7 linked regions of the Homo sapiens genome follow. The protein of the gene in region 6 purifies or fractionates together with the protein of the main gene of each other region. This does not show direct contact. Each region holds a gene or a part of one and is shown on either strand. Other genes may lie near its edges. The genes, in order: FAM120A, CSNK1G2, DENND1A, BCL7B, LSM11, ATL2 and ADD1.

What was found.
Region 1: the proteins of ATL2 (region 6) and FAM120A purify together in Homo sapiens (affinity purification with mass spectrometry; one large-scale study listed by BioGRID and IntAct). This does not show direct contact.
Region 2: the proteins of ATL2 (region 6) and CSNK1G2 purify together in Homo sapiens (affinity purification with mass spectrometry; one large-scale study listed by BioGRID and IntAct). This does not show direct contact.
Region 3: the proteins of ATL2 (region 6) and DENND1A purify together in Homo sapiens (affinity purification with mass spectrometry; one large-scale study listed by BioGRID and IntAct). This does not show direct contact.
Region 4: the proteins of ATL2 (region 6) and BCL7B purify together in Homo sapiens (affinity purification with mass spectrometry; one large-scale study listed by BioGRID and IntAct). This does not show direct contact.
Region 5: the proteins of ATL2 (region 6) and LSM11 purify together in Homo sapiens (affinity purification with mass spectrometry; one large-scale study listed by BioGRID and IntAct). This does not show direct contact.
Region 7: the proteins of ATL2 (region 6) and ADD1 purify together in Homo sapiens (affinity purification with mass spectrometry; one large-scale study listed by BioGRID and IntAct). This does not show direct contact.

Annotation. Positions count from the first base shown.
Region 1 is NC_000009.12:93,510,685-93,514,184, reverse strand, and holds part of FAM120A (constitutive coactivator of PPAR-gamma-like protein 1), read right to left. Parts: intron 1-3,500. UniProt on the Homo sapiens protein: Component of the oxidative stress-induced survival signaling. May regulate the activation of SRC family protein kinases. May act as a scaffolding protein enabling SRC family protein kinases to phosphorylate and activate PI3-kinase.
Region 2 is NC_000019.10:1,965,172-1,968,671, forward strand, and holds part of CSNK1G2 (casein kinase I), read left to right. Parts: intron 1-3,500. UniProt on the Homo sapiens protein: Serine/threonine-protein kinase. Casein kinases are operationally defined by their preferential utilization of acidic proteins such as caseins as substrates. It can phosphorylate a large number of proteins. Participates in Wnt signaling.
Region 3 is NC_000009.12:123,920,127-123,923,626, forward strand, and holds part of DENND1A (DENN domain-containing protein 1A), read right to left. Parts: intron 1-3,500. UniProt on the Homo sapiens protein: Guanine nucleotide exchange factor (GEF) regulating clathrin-mediated endocytosis through RAB35 activation. Promotes the exchange of GDP to GTP, converting inactive GDP-bound RAB35 into its active GTP-bound form.
Region 4 is NC_000007.14:73,551,191-73,554,690, reverse strand, and holds part of BCL7B (B-cell CLL/lymphoma 7 protein family member B), read left to right. Parts: intron 1-1,021; coding exon of another isoform or gene 1,022-1,143; intron 1,144-2,448; coding exon 2,449-2,524; intron 2,525-3,500. UniProt on the Homo sapiens protein: Positive regulator of apoptosis. Plays a role in the Wnt signaling pathway, negatively regulating the expression of Wnt signaling components CTNNB1 and HMGA1.
Region 5 is NC_000005.10:157,750,212-157,753,711, forward strand, and holds part of LSM11 (U7 snRNA-associated Sm-like protein LSm11), read left to right. Parts: intron 1-1,178; coding exon 1,179-1,318; intron 1,319-3,500. UniProt on the Homo sapiens protein: Component of the U7 snRNP complex that is involved in the histone 3'-end pre-mRNA processing. Increases U7 snRNA levels but not histone 3'-end pre-mRNA processing activity, when overexpressed. Required for cell cycle progression from G1 to S phases.
Region 6 is NC_000002.12:38,293,454-38,297,273, forward strand, and holds the end of ATL2 (atlastin-2), read right to left. Parts: intron 3,248-3,820; coding exon of another isoform or gene 3,233-3,247; intron 3,138-3,232; coding exon of another isoform or gene 3,030-3,137; exon of another isoform or gene 2,661-3,029; coding exon 2,541-2,660; 3' UTR 501-2,540; downstream 1-500. UniProt on the Homo sapiens protein: Atlastin-2 (ATL2) is a membrane-anchored GTPase that mediates the GTP-dependent fusion of endoplasmic reticulum (ER) membranes, maintaining the continuous ER network. It facilitates the formation of three-way junctions where ER tubules intersect.
Region 7 is NC_000004.12:2,846,844-2,850,343, forward strand, and holds part of ADD1 (alpha-adducin), read left to right. Parts: intron 1-3,500. UniProt on the Homo sapiens protein: Membrane-cytoskeleton-associated protein that promotes the assembly of the spectrin-actin network. Binds to calmodulin.

The sequences.
Region 1 (3,500 bases), on a different chromosome or scaffold from region 6:
GGCTCTTCCCCCTTCACTCGACACTTCTTACCGCTGCCTTGTTAAGAAGGTGCCTTGCTTCCCCTTCAACTTCTGCCATGATGCTAAGTTTCCTGAGGCCTCCCCAGCCATGCTGAACTGTGAGTCAATTAAACCTCTTTCCTTCATAAATTATCCAGTCTCAGGCAGTTCTTTATAGCAGTATGAAATCAGAGGAAAACACCAGGCAAGGGGAACACAACCCAAGAACCACCACCTCTCACACTGCCTACTGCCAATATAGGTAAGGACAGAAACATTCCCCAAACCTTCACTCTCGTTCTCTGAAAAGCAAATGTCCATGGCTGCATTCACAAGAGGTTCCCTAAGCCAACACTGGGCGTGGTGAGACCAGGAGTGCAAACGCTGTCCTTGGTCCGGCCTCCTGAGAGCCAAGCATGGTCAACAGACGCTGGGAGTGAAGCACAGATCATTGTTGACTCCCCCCAGAGAACGACCAGGAATCTTACAGACTACAATTTATCTGAGGTTCCTGCCTTCCAAGGGCCTTCAGCTCGCAAGCTTTAAACACCATAGCCCTTCGATCCTGGCTCGCATCAAGAAAAAACCTTGGCAGAGCTTCCACCTTTGTACCAAACAAAAACAACTGCAGTATGAGAAGCTGGGAATAATGAGACTGGCATGTGTGTAGTCACAGACACCTCACACTTGCATGCAACACGCACATAGACACACGTGCACACAACACATTCCTAACTGACCGATAAGTCCACAAGTCCGTGCCTCTAAGGGATGTGTGTGCATGATCAAGTGGTCACTCACACACAGGCGTAGATACACACAGAAGTGCACACAAACACACCCCACACGTGCATGCATGGCGCACACACACGCATGGCACAGACAATACAAGGAGCTGTTCCTAAAACAGTATGTTGGCTAGATCTGCACCTCCACGTGTGCGATCAAAGTCGCTATTATTTTAAAAAACTGTTCACAGGTGATTCTGATAGGCAGGTTTGGTCCAAAGAATATTATAAAATCTATTCAAGCTCCAACCATATAATTTAAATCAATGTAAAATGTCTAGTGTATAATATCTTGTGGCTGACCTCACTTACCTAACTTTGGAATAATACAAATCTAAGGCTAGACTCATGTAGCACCCGCATTCAAGTGAAGATGATCATTTTTGTTTTTTGATTTTTGGCCATTTCATCCTAAAACCTTCCTTGAAAGCACAAACTTTCCTTTAAAGCAAACAAACAAACTACATTACAGCATAAAACCAAAGAATTCCAAGGAAAGAATATTTTCTAAAATCACATTCCAATCATTGACCTCAAATAATCCTCTGTGAATCCACAGAGCAAGCCACTATTCTATTAAAGCAGTCCAATAAGTGAATTAATTTGTCTGCATTTTCTGAAGGCTGCAGAAGTGCCTCCTAACCCAGGGTCTCCCTCTGCGGATTCAGGCCTTCGTCTATATCGGTTCTTGTTCTCCATGCCCAAGTGCAGCTGAGCAGAACCACTGTGTGTCCTCTCTACAACAAGAGGCATCTTTCTCAGAAGGGACACGGGGCTCCAGAGTAGAGGTCACACCACCAGTTTCTCACTCTCTTCCTTTCACACTTACTAGAGAGGTGGGCTTTCGGTAAAAAAAAAAATATGCAGACTGAAGACAAGAAGCAAAAGAAGAAAAAAAGGCCAAAAAAGTTTACTATATTTCAAAATATTTCGTAACTTTAAAAATAGTTTTTAAATAGTGAGAAGTTCTTTCAGAATGAAAAGAGACATGCACTGCAATCCCTCGGCTGTATGATCTTGACTTGTTACAGCTCAGTCACCTACTTCCTCAAAGGACTCACTTACGCCTATATGCAGCTGTGTGGCTTTTGCTCTGAATTAAAATACGGTAAAATTCTTTAAAGAAATGGTGTTAAACTGGAACCTCTTCTTAGAACTACAGTCGGCCTTACCCCAGTCCCCATTCCTAGCCCAACCTAACAAATGTTCCTCTATTACTTGGCATATGATCCTGAAATGTTAAACAAAACAAAGAGTAACAAAGTTAAGTCTTAAAAAACAAAAAACAAAACAAAACAAAAAACTGGCCTGGTTCAGTGGCTCATGCCTGTAATCCCACCACTTTGGGAGGCCAAGGCAGGCGAATCACTTGAGGTCAGGAGTTCAAGATCAGCCTGACCAACATGGCGAAAGCCCGTCTCTACTAAAAATAAAAAAATTAGCCAGGCATGGTGGCAGGCGCCTATAACCCCAGCTACTCGGGAGGCAGAGGCTGAAAATCGCTTGAACCCTGGAGGCAGAGGCTGTAATCAGCAGAGATCGTGCCACTGCACTCTGGCCTGGGTGACAGAATGAGACTCCATCTCATAAATAAATAAATAAACAGGCAGACATTGTATGATTTTCAAGTATCACCCAAAAAATATAGCTTTGAAGATGTCGAGTCCAAGATTAAACAAATCAATATAATCCCTACCACCTTTAATTTTCATCGCTTGCAAACACAGACAAGGCAAAACATTCCAACCATTTTAAGCATGTGCAAACAGACATGTTTACTAAATCTCAATAGTCTACAGAAGATAAAAAGTTATAGAAAGGAAACTGTCATGTGACCTGTTCCCGTTACACTACAGATCCAGTGTCCAGAGAGGCAGGGTGGGGCCTTGGAGCACAGTGGGAGGGCGCGGCGTCTGGCCATCCTATAGGGAGAGGAGGCCCCACAGAGCCGGTCAGGCTGGCCAAGCCTGGACTGAGACCAGGTGCAATGTCAGTGCCCAGGGAGGCAAAGGATGGAGGAGCAACTCCCAAGAGCTAAGAGCCTGGGAGCAGCTGATGCTGGCCCAAAGCCTGCGGTGTTGGCCAGACCCCAAGGGAAGAGCCAGAGGCCGGCGCCCAGAAGAGGAGGCCTGGTGACAGAAGGAGGCAAAACCTGAGGCATGATCAGCTTGAAGAAGGCTAAGTACAAGGCCCATGAGAAGTAAGATTATGAACTCAGTGAACAGGCACATCCTGCGTGGCACGTGAAAGAATTCGGAACAGCGGGAAAAATTAAACCACGGAAGCAAATTTCAAGTCAACAGAAACAAGAACTTTCTAAGAATGAGAGCAGTTCAACAATGAAAAGGGTTGCTTTACTGACTGCTGGACTGCTCATACAAGAACATTCTACAGCAGGGAGCTGGGCTGAACTTCTATAAACATTCCTCACTCCCCAAATCCTTTCCATCCCTGAATGTGGATAGTGAGAGGGTAGACATCACGAGATACGGCATCATTCGAATCTACCCAGTGCCCCAGTCTCAAGTAGCAAGTTTTATCTAAATGTATTCAGTTCCTGGGTTTAATTAATCAGTTTGAACAGAATACTTGTACTGACTGAGCAAAGTTCAAGAAGGCAGAATAGGAACATTACATCTCATCAAGGCTGGTTACGGTGGCTCATGACTACAATCCCGACACTGGGGGCTGAGGCAGTTCAGACCAGGCCAG
Region 2 (3,500 bases), on a different chromosome or scaffold from region 6:
GATCACGAGGTCAGGAGATCGAGACCACAGTGAAACCGCGTCTCTACTAAAAATACAAAAAATTAACCGGCCGTGGTGGCGGGCGCCTTTAGTCCCAGCTACTCAGGAGGCTGAGGCAGGAGAATGGCATGAACCCAGGAGGCGGAGGTTGCAGTGAGCCGAGATTGTGCCACTGCACTCCAGCCTGGGCGACAGAGCGAGACTCCGTTTCCAAAAAAAAAAAAAAGATCATTGTTTCCATCCCTGCTAGCACAACATCCAGCCTGTAGCCTGTGGATCAATGAATGAATGAATGACTCGGAAATCAAGATGACTCCTTGACATGTCATTCATTCATTTATTTATGCATGACAAGGTGTCCCACTGTCACCCAGGCTGGAGTGCAGTAGCACGATCTTGGCTCACTGCATCCTCCACCTCCCGGGTTGAAGCAATTGTCTTTCCTCAGCCTCCTGAGTAGCTGGGGCTACAGGTGCGTGCCACCATGCCCAGCTAATTTTTATATTTTTTCATAGGGGGTTTCACCATGTTCCTCAGGCTGGTCTTGAACTCCTGAGCTCAAAGCAGTCTGCCCGCCTCAGCCTCCCAAAGTGCTGGGACTACAGGCCTGAGCCACTGTGCCTGGCCAAGTCTTAGTGTTTTTGAGGCACGGTCTCACTGTGTCTCCCAGGCTGCAGTGGAGAAGCAGAATCACAGCTCACTTTAGCCTCCACCTCCCAGGCTCAAGCGATCCTCTCACCTCAGTCTCCTAAGTAGCTAGGACCACAGGTGCGCACCGCCATGACTGGCTAATTTTGTTTTTATTTTTGTAAAGATAGGGTCTCCCTGTGTTGCCCAGGCTGGTCTTGAACTCCCGGCCTCAAGCAGTCTGCCTGCGTCAGCCTCCCAAAGTGTCGGGGTTACAGGCAGGAGCCACCGCAGCCGCCCATGACTCTCATTATTGAGAAATACATTTGTAAGGCTCTAGGTGCCTGTAGGTGCCGTGGAGAGCAATTCCTCTGATGGAGCTGGGGAAATTGGGTAAATTGAAACCCCCGGAAAGGCTTTGCCGTTCTAGAGGCTGTGAAGGACACGCGTGATCCATGGGAGGAGGTAACATGTCAGGATGAGCGGAAGTTTGGAAGAAGTTGGTCCCAGGCCTGAAAGATCACTGTGAGGGTTCAGGACTTCAGTGGAGGAGGGACTGTAGAGGTTTTAGAAGCAGCAAGAGAACTAGAATGAGAAGGACTTGGAGATGTGACTGCATTGTCGCTGTCTCGCGAGAAAACTTTAACACGTGAGGAGTTGCCTCTGAAGGGTGAGCAGGGGAGTTGCTTCAGTTGCGCTCTAGTCCCAGTGAAGATTCTGTGAACCTGGGGGTAATGAGGACAAAGAACTTGGAACAGCCCGGAACCTCGGTTGATGAAGCCGCGGCCGGGTTGAGAGGACCGACTGCAGTTCTGAAAGACGTTCTGCTGTGGGTAATCAATGCTATCAGACAGCATCACGCCCCACAGAGAAATCTTTCATGAAAGGAAGAGTCCATCGCTGTGGCCAACTTTTTTGTGGTCATAGTTTAAGAAGTTGCCCCAGCCTCCAGCAGCCACCGCCCCAACGAGTCAGCCGCCGTCCACATTGAGGCAAGACCCTTCTCCGGGGAGATTAGGGCCACTCCCGGTTCCCATGATCATTACCATTGCTTAGCAGTAAAGTATTTTTATTTCTTTATTATTTATTTAAGATGGGGTCTTGCTGTATCCCCCAGGCTGGAGTGCAGTGGTGCGATCATAGCTCACTGCAGCCTCCGCCTCCTGGGCTCAAACGATCCTCCCGCCTCAGTCTCCCGAGTAGCTGGGACCACAGGCTTGCACACCACGCCCCGCTTAATTAAAGTGTGTCCTTTGATTAGACACAACGCTACTGCACACTTCCTAGACCACGGTATACTGTGAACGTAACTTGTGTGTGCACTGGGAAACCAGAACATTCGAGCGGCTGTTGCCGTGCGGAACCCAAGGCCTGTGATCCCCACAGGGTGTTTCTGGCACCGGAACGCAGGGGCCACATCCAGGGGGGCAGTGCTTGTGACGCCGGTGCCTTCGTTTCTGATGTGGCTTACTCAGCTGGGAGTTCCTGTCCTAACATTTTCGGCGATGGCTGTGCACCCACGGCCCCTCTTCACCCGCGGCCCCTACGTCCTGCCGGTTGGCAGGAAACCTCTTCCCCTGCACATCTGGGGCACAGCAGCAAACTGTGGTCCCCCTTCTTCAGTGAGGGTGGGGCTTCTGTCTGTCTGGAGCCCTAGAATGGGGCCAGGGGTGGCTGGGGCCTGGGTCAGGGAGGACCCGGCAGGATCTGTGCAGACAGGCAGGTGGCTGCGGTGGCTCCCGGTGCAGGGTTCTTGGCCTCCTGGGCGGGTACCTGGCTTGAGGGCGACGAGGTGACAGCCGCGTCCCTGGGGTTGCACCACCCGAGCGTCCAGTTAACACCACAGCTGCCACCCTTCAGTTCTGCAGGTGGGGCTCCTCCCTCCTCCCCAGGCTGCCCCCACCACCCTTCAGTTCTGCAGGTGGGGCTCCTCCTTCCTCCCTCCTCCCCAGGCTGCCCCCGACCACCCTTCAGTTCTGCAGGTGGGGCTCCTCCTTCCTCCCTCCTCCCCAGGCTGCCCCCGACCACCCTTCAGTTCTGCAGGTGGGGCTCCTCCCTCCTCCCTTCTCCCCAGGCTGCCCCCGACCACCCTTCAGTTCTGCAGGTGGGGCTCCTCCCTCCTCCCTTCTCCCCAGGCTGCCCCCGACCACCCTTCAGTTCTGCAGGTGGGGCTCCTCCCTCCTCCCCAGGCTGCCCCCGACCACCCTTCAGTTCTGCAGGTGGGGGCTCCTCCCTCCTCCCCAGGCTGCCCCCACCACCCTTCAGTTCTGCAGGTGGGGCTCCTCCCTCCTCCCTCCTCCCCAGGCTGCCCCCGACCACCCTTCAGTTCTGCAGGTGGGGCTCCTCCCCAGGCTGTCCCTGACCACCCTTCAGTTCTGCAGGTGGGGCTCCTCCCTCCTCCCTCCTCCCCAGGCTGCCCCAGACCACCCTTCAGTTCTGCAGGTGGGGCTCCTCCCTCCTCCCCAGGCTGCCCCCGACCACCCTTCAGTTCTGCAGGTGGGGGCTCCTCCCTCCTCCCCAGGCTGCCCCTGACCACCCTTCAGTTCTGCAGGTGGGGCTCCTCCCTCCTCCCTCCTCCCCAGGCTGTCCCGAGGCTCCTTGCTGGGGACCGTCCTGCCTCCCGTCGGGGCCTGCGCTGAGACTGGGCTCCATGCCAGCCGGGGCTGGCTGGCCCCCTCGCTCCAGAGAGCGACCTGCACAGAGTCCCCTCAGCCATGAGCCCCTGTCCAGACACGGCGTTTCTCTGTGGGTGGCAACAGGCTCTGGGGCCCTCAGCTCTGGGCTCGGGAGCATTTAAGGTGGTGCAGACTCAGCGAGGGGCTGTGGGCTGGGGTCCCACCATCCCGGGAGCAGGGACTGCGTGTTCCTTCTCA
Region 3 (3,500 bases), on a different chromosome or scaffold from region 6:
AAAGAATAAAAAATCACTTTAAGGCCGGGCATGGTGGCTCAAGCCTGTAATCCCAGCACTTCGGGAGGCCGAGGCGGGCGGATCACCTGAGGTCAGGAGTTTGAGACCAGCCTGGCCAAACTGGAGAAATCCGTCTCTACTAAAAGTACGAAAAATTAGCCGGACATGGTGGCAGGTGCCTGTAATCCCAGCTACTCAGGAGGCTGAAGCAGAGGAAGCTTGAATCCAGGAGGTAGTAATTGCAGTGAACCAAGATCGTGCCACTGCACTCCAGCCTGGGCGACAAGAGCAAGGCTCTGTCACACACACACAAAAAAAACACTTTAAAAAGACTGAAAAGTAGTACCAGTTAAACAGAGATAAATATAAATTATTTGTATAAATCTTTTATAAAACTGAATAGATTTCCAATATTTATGATAAAGGGAACATTAAGTGGTTTTTTTACTTCAAGACAGGGTCTTGCTCTGTTGCCCAAGCTAGAGTACAGTGGTGCAATCTCAGCTCACTGCAACCTCCCCTTCCCGGGTTCAAGCAGTTCTCACACCTCAGCCTCCCAAGTAGCTGGGATTACAGGCATGCGCCACCATGCCCAGCTAATTTTTGTAATTTTTTTTTTTTTTTTTAGTAGAGATGGGGTTTTGCCATGTTGGCCCAACTGATCTCGAACTCCTGACTTCAAATGATCTGCCTGCTTCAGCCTCCCAAAGTGATGAGATTACAGGTGTGAGCTACCGGGCCTGGCTGGGGACATAAGTGTTCTTAAATGTTATAATTCTAATTGTTTGCACGCTCATCTTACCTGTCTTAGTAGACTATAGGCTTCCTTTCTTCCCAACCAGCAAGAGCAATAGTGCTTTGTATATATCAGCATCTCAATCTTTCAAACAAATTCAGTGAAATACACTACACGTCATCCTAACATTCTTACTGAAAGGAAGCAAATACTTTGGTTTTTAAAAACAAAACCAAAAAAAACTGTAATACTATAAAAAGGAACATACTTGCTGTTTTTTAACTTGTTTTTTAACTCCAGGTTGTTCAGACAACTGTGTTTTCTCCTCTCCAAGCAATATTAATGATAGCTGCCATTTAATAAGCAGTCATATCTCCACTGAGAACTAGGCACAATATCTCTTTTAATTATCACAACAACCCTGTAGGTTAATTTATTAGCTTCCTTCCATAAATATTATTTTTTTAACCTGAAGCTCAGAAATTTAGAACTCAGAGGGAGAATGTATAGTTCTGGGAACTCAGTACTCCAATGCTCACATACCCCTGGCTCCTCTCACACCCCGGAGTTCAAGAACTGCCAGCGTGGAGTCAAACAGTATCTTCTCTAGATTGGTTTCCTTCCTTCCATTTATTCATACAGCCTATGCGAGATCAATGCAACACCCTCAAACCTTTCCTGTGGCTAAAGTGAATTCAAAAGGTGGTTTTTCTTTTCCCCCTCTCTAAATCTACCATGAACAGATTTGCCTTCAGCAATTTAGTCCAGCCCACTTCAAGTCTTACTCATTCAATAAAGCACACACATTCACTATGGATCCCTCAAAGATTCCTTCCATTCTCAATGCAGACTAAAATGCCTTATCCCAATTATAACTTTTCACTTTTCCTCAGAAAAGCAAACATATAACCAGTCCTCACCTCACAAATACTCCATTTGTAACATAACTCTGCTAACCTTGGCAAGTCATCTTTGATTCTTCTTTTGCCTCTTACGTGTAATTTGTCACCAAGTCTTGTCATTTCTACTTAAAATCTCTCAAAGCCATCCTTTTTTTTTTTTTTCTTTTTTCTTTTTGAGACAGGGTCTCACTCTGTCACCCAGGCTGGAATGCAGTGGCGTGATCTTGACTCACTGCAACCTCCGTCTCCTGAGCTCTGTGGGAGCTCAAGTGATCCTCCCACCTCAGCCTCCCAAGTAGCTGGGACCACAGATACATGCCACCACACCTGGCTAATTGTTGTATTTTTTTGTAAAGACAGAGTTTCATCATGTTGCCCATGCTGGTCTCAACTTCCTGGACTCAAGCCATCCACCCTCCTTGGCCTCCCAAAGTGCTGGCATTACAGGCATGAGCCACCACGCCCGGCCTGTCATTCCTTTTCTTTACACTGCCAAAACCTTGCTCTGGACCTTGATCTTCAGCAGTAAAAACTATTTACACAGTTCCACAATCCAGTGGCCTCCCATTTTTTTCCATGCATTCTTCCTATCAGTAAAAAAGTGAGCATACATCTGATAAATATCCATAAATTATAATAATGCCTTACTATACTAACACATACATTAAAAAATACAAACTTTGAAGGTTGATATAAAAATAAATACAATTTCTAACATATTCTCACGTTCCAATGCGTCATCTTGTAAAAGCCAGAGATATCACTGTTCTAAACTGCTGCTGCCAGGGTAATCTACCTAAAAACCCAAATCTGATCATAGTACATCCCCAGTTCAACCCTTCAATGGCATCATATCCCACTGGCACATGCCTACTTCATCAACTTCCTCTCCTGTAATCTTTATCCTTATATCCTGTATTTCAGCTTTACCTTTTATCTCCCCATGACTTTTGCATACACAGTTCCCTATATCTGGAATGCCCTTGCCCTCAACAGTTACTGATTTGTACATAACAGTATCTTGAAGAGGGAAACACATTCTAAATGTCATAACCAACGTCCAAATGAACTTTTGGAATGTCACCTCTCTTTTCTATAGGAACATATATGTATTTTAACATATCTTTTCTTACTTTATTTGGCTCCTTTTCAAGTCCTGAATACTCGGAAAGAATGGGTACGGATTCCAATAAAAGTAGAGAACAAAACAACTTCATTTTGTTTATTTTTCTTCCTTGTTTATCTTTCCATGTCCCTACAAAGCCCCTTTAAGCAAAAAGGATGTTACGAACCCAGAGATTAGCTCTCCCTAGGGCCAGGAAAAAGGCTGGACCTTTGCAACTGCAACCGGAACTCCAGCCAGGAACTTACACAGATTTAATAACTCAATGCAAACATACTTTCCTAGAGCAATACTCCAGGTCTTACCTTCTGTTTCAACCTTCCTATCTGCTGTACAATGCCCTCTAAGTTGACTACAATGGCTAAGAAAAGAGTGATGGAGTAGCACCAACATGTTTTCCAGAAAAGTCATGAAAATTCAAGTGGCTGACTCTGAGCACTAACGATGGAGAGCTTGGTCTTCAAAGAGACTTTTATTCCACCACTCCAAGTCTCTCTACATTCTCCTTTGGGGACAGGGAGGACAGCACTGTGGCGGAGAAAGGGAAGAGGGGAATAGGCATTAGAGGAAGAAGGCCTGGAAGGAAGTCACATTCCAATTCTTGGTCTCATCACAAAGCAGAGAGATACGTTAGTTGTGCTATACAACAGGCCTCAAGAAAAAGCAAACTTTTTGTGTATTTTGGCAATGGGATCCTTTAAACAAACTGGAGCAGAGCTATCATAAGCCAACACTGCTC
Region 4 (3,500 bases), on a different chromosome or scaffold from region 6:
GAGTAGTCGGGACTACAGGTGTGCGCCACCATGCCCGGCTAATTTTTGTATTTTTAGTGAGGACAGGATTTCACCATATTGCCCAGGCTGGTCTCGAACTCCTGGGCTCAAGTGATCCACCCACCTCAGCCTTCTAAAGTGCTGGGGTTGCAGGTGTGAGCCACCGTGCCCGGCCCTATTATGTCATCATTTGCTGAACAGCATCAACAACTACAACAGCAGTTGCTTTTTTTTTGCTTTTTCGTGACTTCATATTTGGACTTGACTCTTTGAGAAGTTGGCTCAGATCTGTGACAAAGCAGTTCCCTGCATTTGACCCTTGTTCCTACTGACAGCAAGTACCTCTTAAGGTATTGGTGGACCTTAAAATAAGCAAATTTGTTCTCTGCCTGCACGCTTAGGGAATAACCTTCTTGGAATGAAGGAGAGGCTGGGCACGGTGGCTCACACCTGTAATCCCAGCACTTCGAGAGGCTGAGGCAAGAGGATCGCTTGAGCCCAGGAGTTCAAGATCAACCTGGGCAACATGGTGAAACCCTATCCTTACTAAAAATACAAAAAATTAACTGGGCGTGGTGGCCTGTAGTCCCAGCTACTTGGGAGGCTGAGATGGGAGATTCACCTGAGCCTGGGATTTTGAGGCCGCAAGGAGTGGTGATCACGCCACTGCACTCCAGCCTGGGTGACGGAGACCCTATCTCAAAAAAAAAAAAAAAAAAAGTCTCCTTTGTTCTATCTCCTCCACACATTTGTTTGCAGACCTCGAAGGCACTCTGTGGGTAAGCTCAGAACAGTGGCATTCTAATCTGGTGTAGATAGTTGGGGGTCCTTAGTCATTTAGAGAGTGACCTTGTGCAAGGCTTATCCCTTTGCTTATTTCGTGAGCGTAGTGGACTGATAAACTCTGCCATTTTTACCCCTTTGGAACACAGCAAGAGACAGGATTTCTACAAAGCTTTGAACTTCAAAGTTGAAATTTAAAAATTTCTTTAGACTAGTTTTCTTTCTTTTTTTTTTTGAGACGGAATCTCGCTCTGTCACCCAGGCTGGAGTGCATTGGCGCAATCTCGGCTCACTGCAACCTCTGCCTCTCAGGTTCAAGCAATTCTCCTGCCTCAGCCTCCTGAGTAGCTGGGACTACAGGTGCGTGCCACCACACCCAGCTAATTTTTTGTATTTTTAGTAGAGACAGGGTTTCACCGTATTAGCTAGGATGGTCTCGATCTCTTGACCTCGTGATCCGCCCACTTTGGCCTCCCAAAGTGCTGGGATTACAGGTGTGAGCCAGCGCGCCTGGCCTAGTTTTCTTTTTCTTTATGCAGTCTTAGTAACCCAGAAAGGGAAAGGTTCCTAACATTTCACACCCACCAGGCCATACCCCCCAGCAGCAGGTGTCTCTCCTGAGATTGTTTGCCCCTTGGAAGGGTCTTTAAATGGACACAGGAGGCCAGGTGTGGTGGCTCATGCCTGTAATCCCAGCATTTTGGGAGGCCAAGGTGGGCAGACTGCTTGAGACCAAGAGTTCAAGACCAGCGCGGGCAACAAAGAGAGACCCCCCACCCCCACCCCACCACCCCAACCATCTCTACAAAAAATAAAAATTTGGCTGGGCGTGGTGGTGTGCGCCTCTAGTCCCAGCTACTCAGGAGGCTGAGGTGGAAGGATTGCTTGAGCCCAGGAGGTCAAGGCTGCAGTGAGTTATGATTGTGCCACTTCACTCCAGCCTGGGAGGCAGAACGAGACCCTGTCTCACTAAAACAAACAAAGAAAAGGAATGTAGTAATAGAACTCATATATTTGGTAAAGAGAAAAGCACTCAAAGTAACTCGCATGCAAGTAAAAAAGAATATGGTGCTGTGTGTGCTACCTTCCAGCCTTATGTCCCACATCCTTTTTTTTTTCTTTCTTTCTTTTGAGACAGGGTCTCTGTTGCCCAGGCTGGAGTGTGGTGGCGTGATCTCAGTTTACTGCAACCTCTGCCACCTGGGCTCAAGGGATCCTCCCACCTTAGCCTCCGGAGTAGCTGGGATTACAGGCACACGCCACCACGCCCAGCTACTTTTTGTTTTTTTTTTGTAGCGACAGAGTTTCACCATGTTGGCCGGGATGGTCTCGAACTCCTGACCTCAAGCGATCTGCCCACCTCAGTCTCCCAAAGTGTTGGGTTTACAGGCGTGAGCCGCTGCGCCTGGCCTGTATTTTTTTTTTAGAGATGAGGTCTCGCTAAATTGCCCAGGCTGTTCTCAACCTCCTAGGCTTGAGTGATCCTCCTGCCTCAGCCTCTCAAAGTGCTGGGATTTCAGGTGTGAGCTACCATACCCCACCAAGAGGAAGTTCAGAAGGATTCCAGATTGAAGGAATGATCTGCTGAGTAGTAGAAAAACACAAGTGATGAACAGAAAACACATTGCATTGTTTTATCCGTTCTAAGAAGTGTCTTTCTTTTAGGGAGAAGAAGTGGGTGACTGTGGGTGACACGTCCCTGAGGATATTTAAGTGGGTTCCTGTGACAGACAGCAAGGAGGTAAGTGTGGAAGAAAATCAAAAGATACCATTTTCTTTATTTCTTTATTTGATTGCCTCTTTTTTTTTTTTTTTGGGACGGAGTCTCGCTGTGTCACCCAGGCTGGAGTGCAGTGGCATGATCTTGGCTCACTGCAACCTCCACCTCCTGGGTTCAAGCAGTTCTCTGCCTCAGCCTCCCAAGTAGCTGGGGTTACAGGCATCTGCCACCACACCCAGCTGATTTTTGTATTTTTAGTAGAGACGGGGTTTCACCATGTTGGTCAGGCTGGTCTTGAACTCCTGACCTCGTGACCCACCTGCCTCAGCCTCCCAAAGTGCTGGGATTACAGGCGTGAGCCACTGCACCCGGCCTAATTGCCTTTTAATTAAAGGAATTTATTTGCCCAGAATTGAGTGGAAAATACTTCAAGGTACCCTGTTATTGGTCCATGCAAGGCCTCTCTTTATTATTTTCCTACTTTATTCCTTTCCCTTAACCCAAGCCTCTTTTCCAGGGCTTGACAAACTACAGCCCTGGCGTATTCCTTAGGTTTGTCAGTATAGTTCTATTAGAACATAACTGGCTGGGCGTGGTGGCTCACGCCTGTAATCCCAGCACTTTGGGAGGCCAAGGTGGGCGGATCACTTGAGGTCGGGAGTTCGAGACCAGCCTGGCCAACATAGTGCAACCCCTGTCTCTACTAAAAATACAAAAAAAGTAGCTAGGCCTGCTGGCAGGCACCTGTAATCCCAGCTACTCAGGAGGCTGAGGCAAGGAGAATCGCTTGAACCTGTAAGGCAGAGGTTGCAGTGAGCCAAGATCCCGCCACTGCACTCCAGCCTGGGCAACAGTGTGACACACCATCTCGAAAATAAGCAAACAAACAAAAAAAACCAAACACATAAGTATGCCCACTGATTTCCTTATTGTCTGTGGTGCTTTTGAATTACAGTGGCAGATTGAGTGGTTGCCATAAGGCCAAATGGCCCGTAAA
Region 5 (3,500 bases), on a different chromosome or scaffold from region 6:
CTGCACTCCAGCCTGGGTGACAGTGAGACCCTGTCTCAGGAAAAAAGAATGTGTACGGCTTTCTTTTGGGAGGTTTTATATACCATAGCCAGCATATTGTGAGAGCTGAGTTAACATGAAATAATAAAAATAAAATTCATCTTTCCTCCCACGCTCTGAGAATCCTTCATAATAAAAGCTGAAATTTATAGTCTCAATATTCTTCCTATGAGTCATTATCCTGCTCTCTTCACATGATGCTTATTAGTAGTGTCATAGGAGCCAGATACTCAGCCAGGTGCCTTTTACACTGTCAGGGCTTGGGCCAGAACCAGTGCTTTTCCTCCCAGAAACACCAGTGAGTCCAGAAAGCTTGTGCATGGAGTAGCTTTGGTGGGGTCAAAGGCCTTTCTTTCTGACAGGATTGTACATGTTTAAGGGCAGAGTGCAGTTTGTTTCCTTTGAACATGTAAACAAGGTTTTTGTTTTTTTGGAAGACTCAAGCTGGATATGTGATTCATGAATTGTCTTAAGGCACAGAATTGAGAAGGATCTCGCTGTTAATGTATACATTTAATGTTTGCGTGCCCGTGTGTGTGTGTGTTTCTCAAGATGGAGTCTTGCTCTGTTGCCCAGGCTGGAGTGCAATGGTGCGATCTCGGCTCACTGCAACTTCCACCTCCTGGGTTCAAGCCATTCTCCTGCCTCAGCCTCCTGAGTAGCTGAGATTACAGGCATGGGCCACCATGCCTGGCTAATTTTTGTATTTTTAGTGGAGATGGGGTTTCACCATGTTGGCCAGGCTGATCTCAAACTCCTGACCTCAGGTGATCCGCCCACCTCAGCATCCCAAAGTGCTGGGATTACAGACGTGAGCCACCACGCCCGGCCAACCCCAAAAGTTAAGTGATAGTGCATGTTAAAATCAGTGACATCGTGGAATAAGAGATATACCGGTAGTGAAACATTTGGCTGATATTCATACATATGGATGATCCACATTCTGTTGGAATCTAGTCTTGTGTCAGTGTGTGTTGGCCGTACGAGCCATGTTGCCCATTGGACCTTCCTGTTCCAATAGTGAGATTGTCACTCTACCATGGGCCACATGTTGCTGGCCGAAGTTGGGTGGTCGTGGCTTAATTCTGGGAATGAGGGCAGATATTAAAACTGTCCTGACTGTTCTTCTCTTGTTTCAGTGCACGAAGGCAGCCCTCTGGGTGAACTCCATCGCTGTATCCGTGAGGGGGTGAAGGTGAATGTTCACATCCGCACTTTCAAGGGACTTCGGGGCGTCTGTACAGGCTTCCTTGTTGCATTCGACAAGTTCTGGAATATGGTAATTAAGCCTTTCTCAAGGGGCTGGAGAACCTCCTACAGATTATATCTTCTATAATATTTAAAGGACCTGAGTAACTGCATTAAGTAAAACCCAAAAAATAACTTCTTAGAAGAACTAGAATTTTTGCATACTTTTGGGCAACAACAAGAAAAGGTCTTTTTATTGCTTCCTTCTCCTTAAGGCAGTGGCTCTTAACCAAGGTAATTTTGTTCTTCCTTCACTCCCAGGAACATTCATCAATGTCTGGGGACATTTTATTGTCACCACTATAGGAGAGGGTACTACTGGCATCTAATTGGTAGAGGCCAGGGTTGCAGCTAAACAGTCTACAACACACAAGATAGTCCCTCAACAACAAAGAATTATCCAATCTGAAAAGTCCTTAGTGCCAGGGTTGAGAAACCCAGCCTTAAGGACCAATTATTTTATCGGTTTAGTAATTTTTAGTTGATTTTCTACCAACCATTCTTTCATTAATTAAGAAAAACATTTATTGACTTCCCATTTTGGCTGAACCCCATGCTAGGTGCAAAAGTTTCAGAAAGGAACTTGCACTTTACAGTACATGGGAAGGTAAATAAGGATAGAGGTGAAGCAGACATCAGTAAACAAAGCATTTTGCATGATGTCTTTTTTTTTTTTTTTTGAGACAGTGTTTTGCTCTTGTCACCCAGGCTGGAGTGCAGTGGCACAATCTCAGCTCACTGCAACCTCCGCCTCCTGAGTAGCTGGGATTACAGGCCCCTGCCACCATGCCCAGCTGATTTTTGTATTTTTAGTAGAGACAGGGTTTCACCATGTTGGCCAGGCTGGTCTTGAACTCCAGACCTCAGGTAATCCGCCTGCCTCAGCCTCCCAAAGTGCTGGGATTACAGGCATGAGCCACTGCGCCCGGCCACATGGTGGTTTTATAATGAGGGAGTGTGCCACACTTCCTAGCCTTCTAGAGGCTTACTTTTTTTCTAGACATTTGTAGGAGAGAAGGGATATGTAATAGCACAACTATAATTTGAGGTAGTTAAGAACTACTAGGCTGCACGCGGTGGTTCACACCTGTAATCCCAGCACTTTGGAAGGCCGAGGCAGGCGGATCGCCTGAGGCCAGGAGTTCAAGACCAGCCTGGCCAACATAGGGAAACCCCCATCTCTACTAAAAATACAAAATTAGCCAGACATGGTGGCACAAGCTTGTAATCCCAGCTACTCAGGAGGCTGAGGGAGGAGAATCACTTGAAGCTGGGAGGCGGAGGTTGCAGTGAGCCGAGATCATGCCACTGCACTCCAGCCTGGGTGGCAGAGCGAGACTCTGTCAAAAAAAAAAAAAAAAAAAAAAGAACCACCAGAGCTTTCTGGTGTTTCTTTTCCATATGGTCTTCTATCTCCAACTTTCCTTTTCCCTGTGCTTTATCCCCATCCACGCATCCTCCTGGATAAGAACAGTAGCTGCTAACATATATTGAGTACCTGCTATGTGCCAGGTACTATACTGAGGGCTTCATATATTATCTCAATGAATGAGTTGTGGGTACTATTACTGTTCCATTTCACAAATGAAGAAATTGATTCTAGAGAGATTGGAATGTTGGTCGCAGATCACACTGTTAGTAAGTGGAAGTGCCAAACTTTTTCCTCGGCCTAACTCCTAAAACCATGTTTTTAACCATTAGGGAATTTGAATCCTAGCATCATCACTTGGTAACTGTGTGACTGTAAGCAAGATAATTTCTCTGAGCCTCAGTTTTCTCATTTCCAAAATGCAGGGAAAAATGTTTTATTATGATCTTTTTACCTTTGAAGAATTGAAGAGAATGTGTTAGATGATAGTGGTGATTATAACAGTACTGTCAGCTTCTATTTGTAGGGTGATTTACACTTTTCAAAGGAATTTGTCTTGTACTTCTCATTTGGTCCTAACAGCTGTCCTGTCGAGGTTGCTCTCGGTGATGAGAACTCACCAGCAATTCTGTGTGTAACCCTGGTTAATCTCTGTTAATTGCTTTCATAAGACATAGAAACTGAAGCGGGTAAAGAAGCAGTAATGTTCCTCAAAGTGGGATCTAAAGCCATCCTGCATCAGAATCACCTGGGGCTTCTGGTTGAAACAAAAGGTTCCTGGGCTTCATCCCAGACCTACCAAAACAGAATCTCCAGCAGAATAGCTTTGGGTTCGTATTTTAAT
Region 6 (3,820 bases):
AGCTCAATTCCTCGGTCTAACTTCCAGCAAAATGTAAATCTGAAAGACAGGAGTTCCTAGGATCTAAGACTTCAGTAGAGAAGGTAAGGGAGCAATTCTCTGTGCTGCCTGGGAAACCCCCAATCTAGCTTTGACAGGAACCAATAACTGGAAGACTCCCCAAAGTCGCATTCTCTTTATGGCAGAGGCTCCCAACAGAATCCAAGTACAATAGTCATTTGATGAGTAATCTCTGGCCAAGTGAGAAGATGGCTACCAGATGCACAGCAACTCAAGCTAATTTTCATCCTCACTCCACGACTATCACACGAATGGAAAAAACCTGAGATGCGCAGATCCATTCTGGTCAAGTTAGAGGAAAGGAGGGAATCCAGGACATGAATGTTTAGGCTAAAGCTTAAAAGTGTGAAATGGACTTAAATCCTGTAGAGAATTGTCTTCTTTGAGTAAAGCACTCTTTTCTGACAAGAAATGTAAGAAAGCCAATGGTCTAGATTTTATAACTTTTTAAAAGTAAGCTGTCTTTAATTTCAGAAAATCTGCTATTATACAACAAATTATTTTTTCATTCATAAAAAACAGTCCACAGCATTCATAAAACAGGGTGGCAGAAGAAATAAAAAGACACTTTTCAGGTGGATTCTTTAAGAACAGATAAGTTAGCAATTTAATACAGATGAAAACAAATACAATCCATATAAAAACAGAATCTGAATGGGAGTGGGAGCGAAGATGTATCAACCAAAGTAAATTCAGAGTTTTCACACATGCAACTCAACACCTGCATTCTCTTCGCTTAAAAAGCAAACTAAGGGCCGGGCGCGGTGGCTCACGCCTGTAATCCCAACACTTTGGGAGGCCAAGGCAGGCGGATCACAAGGTCAGGCGATTGAGACCATCCTGGCTAAAACGGTGAAACCCCATCTCTACTTAAAATAGAAAACATTAGCCGGGAATGGTGGCACGCACCTGTAGTCCCAGCTACTCAGGAGGCTGAGGCGGGAGAATCACTTGAACCCAGGAGGTGGAGGTTGCAGTGAGCCAAGATCGCACCACTGCACTCCAGCCTGGGTGACAGAGAGAGACTCCGTCTCAAAAAAGAAACAAACAAAACTAGGTACTTTAATCGGTGTTCACAAAGAAGACCACAAAAGTACTGAAAAAATGCTAGCCTTACATATACCACCAAAAAAAAAAAAAGAGAGAGAAAGAAATTAACAATCCCCATCTACAACTAGGCTAATCATAGGTTTTCCCTTATAGAGACAGACACAGAAAAGTAACTTTTTACAAGCTTAGTTTTGAGGTACAATGCCTTAGAGCTCTCAACTGGGGTGTTTCCTGCTCATGCTCTTTTCACTATAAACAAATGTGGTTTATGAAGTGGAATACATACTTGAAAAATTCCTTAAAAAAGAATCACAAGTTTCATTTTATATATACAACAAATTTTTAATTATGTACTGAAAATAAATTACAGGAAATAACTTTAAAATGCAACAGAGGACAAAGTCACAATAAACATTCCCATTGAATTCCCTTGGTGGGCGGGGGGGGGGTGAGATTGCAGTGCTCAAGATAAATATCACAAATATATCAAAAACTTCAAATTGTCTATGCATTCACACACTGACATGAGCCACAAACATTCCTTTCACAGGGACAGTACTTATTTAGCCTACCACAGGACCAGATTTTGCCATAAACTACAAAACTTTTAATACAAAATCGTATTTATATATTTATAAGTCATATACATGCCCTATCTGTGATTTTAGAAAATAAAAGCTACACACTGTACAGACACTCTTAACTCATAGCTGTAGGCAACATTTTTGGATGGAATTTCTTCCCCAATAAAATTAATGGCATATTTTATATACATGAAGGCTAAACTGCAAAAAGACAGTTCAGTTTCCCAGATATGCATCTCCTTTTAGGGCAAGTTTATAAATTTAAAAAGGCAAGACAAATGTACACCTCAGAATTACTTTCTTAGCTACAAGAGTTGCCATGTAATTTCTGTGAAGTTTCTGATACATGCATTGATGTAATACTGGTATTGAAGGCAGTAAAGCAATATATACTTTTAATGTAGTGGCTCAATAAAGGCTTCATTGTCTTTCCAATCTGGTTCTTGAAACAGTGATTCATAAATTCTCTAAAAATTAAAATTTCAATGGGACACTGTGTTAAAGAGACTCTAAATAGATTTCTGAAAATATTTCCCTGAAATATCCTTTTACATAAGACAAATTCACTAACATTAGATTAAGTAAAAAGAAATAAAAGAGTTAAACATGGCACAAAGGTGCATGATTAACCAATGCTCCTCAGTCCATCTGCATGTCTTAGGAGCCATTAAAAGAATGCTTAAAACTAACAAACAATCTTCACACTCTGTGGCAGCCATCTGTGAAGCCAGTTACACTAAACTACTTCTACAGTTGATTGTAAACTTTGGTTTATTTTTATTTGAGTTCTCATTGTACAGCAAGCATGAAAAAAAAAGAGAGTGGAGTCCGTGAGGAGATGAACTGTCAGTCTGTCTTTAATCTGGCATGATGAGACACCTGGTCAGTCAGGCCTGCTTTGATAGAGTTTGTTACAGACTGCCTTATGTTTTCCTCCATCAAATTATCACCCAGGGGCTTCAATACCTGTGGTATGAGAAATGTGCAAAACAAACAAAAACATGAGGTAAAAAAAGAGTTACATATAAAAATAGATATAAAAATTCAATTCAAAGCAATGATGAAAATAACCAGGAATATGGGAAATAAAAAGATGCTTCTCTCAAAAAAACTTATGATGCTACTAGACATTTTATAATGCAACAAAAATTACTTTCCTCTTATTCAAACCATTTACAATTCCTATGAGATGGATGTGCAATTCCATACCCTATATGCAGCATCAAATCTGGTATGTATACAGCATTTATGCAGACCGGCCCAGACGGTCCTGCTTATTGTCCTACATGTGTAAGTGTGAACACTTCAGATAGAGAAAAAGGTTAAAAATACTGTCTAATTTTTCTTCTTGTTATTGTTGGATGACAGTCTCTGTCGCTGTGCTGATGAAAGAGCACGGTGAACCATTCGACGTCTAGTAACTTCAAACAGTTTGGAAAACACCTAAAACATGAAGTGATTTGTTAGGAGAATGAATCAGAGTGCCTCGAAGCTAAAGAGTTTAAGACTACAAGAATTTGAGACTGTAGGTTTCTCACCTTCCTGGGACTCCTCTGAAGCAAAAGAAAAGAGAAATGCAAAGAAATTTAGACAAGGTTTGTTGACACAGCACAGATCTCTGACTAGCTGATTACCTTACCTAAACTATACTGAAAATGATTTTATACACTTTAGATTCTTCCATTTAATTGTTTTGTAATAATGGTACCTCCAAAATCCTAGAATCAATGCTGTTTAAGAGATGAATATTTCTCAAAAGAAGATATTGTACAATTATTGAAAATTATATTGCAGAAAATGATCCAAAATTTTAAAATAGCTAATTTTTTCTTAAAAGTGAAGTTGCGATAGCTTTGCATCCATCTTCTATTAGAAGATATCAAAGAAACATCAAGTAGTGAGATTGAGATAAAAATTTAAATAGAATAAATATCCAAACATAAACTTCCCAATCGGATCTGAATAGAGCATTTCTCTAAAGAGTAAACACAAAATCCAAATTAATATAGTGGGTCACTTTATAAAATAACATCATTACAAGAAAAGTCAATATCCAATCAACTTTCTTCAAAAAAAATGGTCTGCTTCTTCGGTCTTCAAGTTTATAGCCAAAACAAACATGGACC
Region 7 (3,500 bases), on a different chromosome or scaffold from region 6:
GTGGTGGCTCACACCTGTAATCCCAGCACTTTGGGAGGCCGAGGCGGGCGGATCATGAGGTCAGGAGATCGAGACCATCCTGGCTAACATGGTGAAATCCCGTCTCTACTAAAAACGCAAAAAATTAGCTGGGCGTGGTGGCGGATGCCTGTAGTCCCAGCTACTCGGGAGGCTGAGGCAGGAGAATGGCGTGAACCCGGGAGGCGGAGCTTGCAGTGAGTGGAGATCGCTCCGTTGCACTGTAGCCTGGGCGACACGGAGCGAGACTCCGTCTCAAAAAAACAAAAACAAAAACAAAAAACAAGCTAGGTGCGGTCGCTCACAATCCCGGCACTTTGGGAGGCTGAGGCAGGTGGATCGCCTGAGGTCAGGAGTTTGAGACCAGCCTGGACAACAGTGAAACCTCATCTCTACTAAAAATACAAAAATTAGCTGGGCATGGTGGTGCATGCCTGTAATCCCCACTACTAGGGAGGCTGAGGCAGGAGAATCGCTTGAACCCAGGAGGCGGAGGTCGCAGTGCCATTGCACTCCATTCTGGGCAACAAAAGCGAAACTCCGTCTCAAAAAAAAAAAGGAAGTAAGACTAGGATTCTACTCAACCTTCTCATTTTTATATACCTGTATCTACTTTTCTTCTAAGCCAAACATTTTGGTTCTACTTGCTCACTGTTTCAACCCACACCGTACACATTTCAGTCTCAGAACAAGATGAACACGTGAACCTCGAAAATTTGAGACAGGTCTCGGTTAACTTAGAAAGTTTATTTTGCTAGTGTTGAGAATGTGTGCCTGTGACACAGCCTCCAGAAGTCCTGATTGACATGTGCCCAAGGTGGTTGGGCACAGCTTGGTTTTATACATTTTAAGGAGACATGAGACATCAATCAATATATGCTAGAAGTACATTGGTTCAGTCCAGAACGGCGGGGACAGCTTGAAGCAGGGAGGGAGCTTCCAGGTCACAAGTAGGTGAGAGACAAATGGTTGCCTTCTTTTGAGTTTCTGATAAGCCTTTCCTAAGGAGGCAACCAGATATGCATCTATCTCAGTGAGCAAAGGGATGACTTTGAATAGAGTGGGAGGCAAGGCTGGGCATGGTGGCTCACGTCTGTAATCCCAGCACTTTGGGAGGCCGAGGCAGGTGGATCACCTGAGATCAGGAGTTCGAGGCCAGCCTGGCCAGCATGATGAAACCCTGTCTCTACTAAAAATACAAAAATTAGTCAGGCTTGGTGGTGGATGCCTGTAATCCCAGGTACTCAAGAGGCTGAGGCGGGAGAATCACTTGAACCCAGGAGGCGGAGGTTACAGTGAGTTGAGATCGTGCCATTGCATTCCAGCCTGGGACAGAGTGAGACTCCGTCTCAAAAAAAAAAAAAAATAGGAATCTTAACATAGCATAATATTAAACTTTAATAGAGTTGTTTAATTGTTAATGCTTATTCTGGCCTTTCTACATTGAGGAACCTTGAGTTTAAAGGAATGAGGGGAAGCACATTTAATACAGTTTGCCTTTTGAGCTTAATTTTTCTAGAAGTACCTTTTTAAACAGTTGTTATAACTAATGTGTAACACTGTTTTTGATAACTGTCAGCTTAAACATGTTGAGCATATATTTATTTAATTAATTTATTTTTTTTGAGACAGACTCTTGCTCTGTCACCTAGGCGGGAATATAGTGATGTGATCATAGTTTGCCGCAGCCTTGAACTCCTGGGCTTAAGCCATTCTCCCACCTCTGACTCTGAAGTAGCTAAGACTGCAGGTTCATGCCAACAGGCTTGGCTAATTTTTTTTTTTTTTTGAGATAAGGTTTCAAAAGCCTGAGCTGTGTTGCTCAGGCTGGTCTTGAATTCCTGGTCTCAAGTGATCCTCCTGTCTCAGCCTCTGAATATGCTAGGATAACAGGCATGAGTCACTGCACCTGACCTGTTTCCAGGTTTTTACTGTTATAAGCAGTGCTCCAATTAATATTACATCTCCATATTGGGCACTTATGAGGTACATCTATAAATACATTCTCAGAAATGAAATTGCTATGTCAAAGAATAATTGCACTTTTCATTTGCATAGACATTTCCAAATTACCCTCCTGGCCCCAATTAATATTCTTACATTTCCATCTTTGGGCACCTATGAAGTATATCTATAGATACATTCTCAGAAGTGAGATTGCCATGTCAAAGAGTAATTACACTTTTACTTTCCGTAGATGTTTCCAGATTATCCTCCTAAGAAGTTACGTTGGTTTATACTCCTACCAACTGTGTATTTTCTCCACATAATTAAGTATGGACACTAAAGTAACAATAGTCCCTATCTTACATGGTTATTGTGAGGATTAAATGAAGTAAATGCCAAAAGGTACCTACTAAGCTGTCAGCAAATGACTTATATTATTAATATAATTATTGTTTTTTTCTGAACTTTATTACCAGAAATATTATAAACCTAGACAGTGCTTCATGAGGTTGGGAAAGAGGGTTCATACAATTGATCTGAGCAATATATGCCTCCAAAATACTGTTATCTGTATTAGAACAGACGAGCTCTGCATCTAGGCCTTGGGCCCAGGGAGTCTGGCATCTGGGGCTGACGTTAGGGGACAGAGTCCACAGGTATATCTCAAATTTGCTGGAAAGGGCATGCCTCAGGAATGGGGCGCAGTAGATGTAACTACATGTGTGCCTCTGCAGCCTGGAATGGCAGCTGTGGCTGTTTGCATGGGGAGGAGAAAGTCATCATTTGGGAGGGACCTTTAGAATATCCCATCCCAAACACTTCTCTCCTTCTCTTACTCTGAAGGGCTTAATTTAAATTTGCTTTGTGGATTAACGTATTGAGAATGATTTAGGGAGTTCCTTACCTAAAAAATGTTTTCCCTCATCTGCACACTGTCGCTTGAAATTTATTTCACAGGAGAGGGAGCCGTAACCATAGGCAGTGTGGTATTATGAAAGGAGTACTGGCTCTTCACTATGGGTTTACTGTGGTTTGCTGAGGGTAGTTGAGTGGGTGAGAAAGTCACTTAGCTGCCCCAAGCCTCACTTTTCTCCATCGGAAAATTAAGTAGCCATGTAATACATGAAAGAGAGAATGTTGTGAAAACACTTTGAGAATGCAAAGGCCAAGTGAAAACATATGTCCGTACAAAAGCTTGTGTGTGAATGTTCAGAGCAGCATTATGTTTAACAGACAAAAAGTGAAACACCCCAGATGTCCATCAGCTAATGAGTGGATCAACAAAATGTGGTCTGTTCATACGATGGAATAGTAGTTGGCAATAGAAAGGATTGAAGCACTCATACCTGGTACAACATGGATGAACTCTGAAAACATGCTAAGTGGAAGAAGCCAGACACAAGAGACCATGTGCTTCATGATTTTACTTATGTGAAATGTCTTCAATAGGCAAATCTTTTTGTTTTTTGTTTTTTGTGAGACTGAATCTCACTCTCTTGCCCAGGCTGGAGTGCAGTGGTGCGATCTTGGCTCAC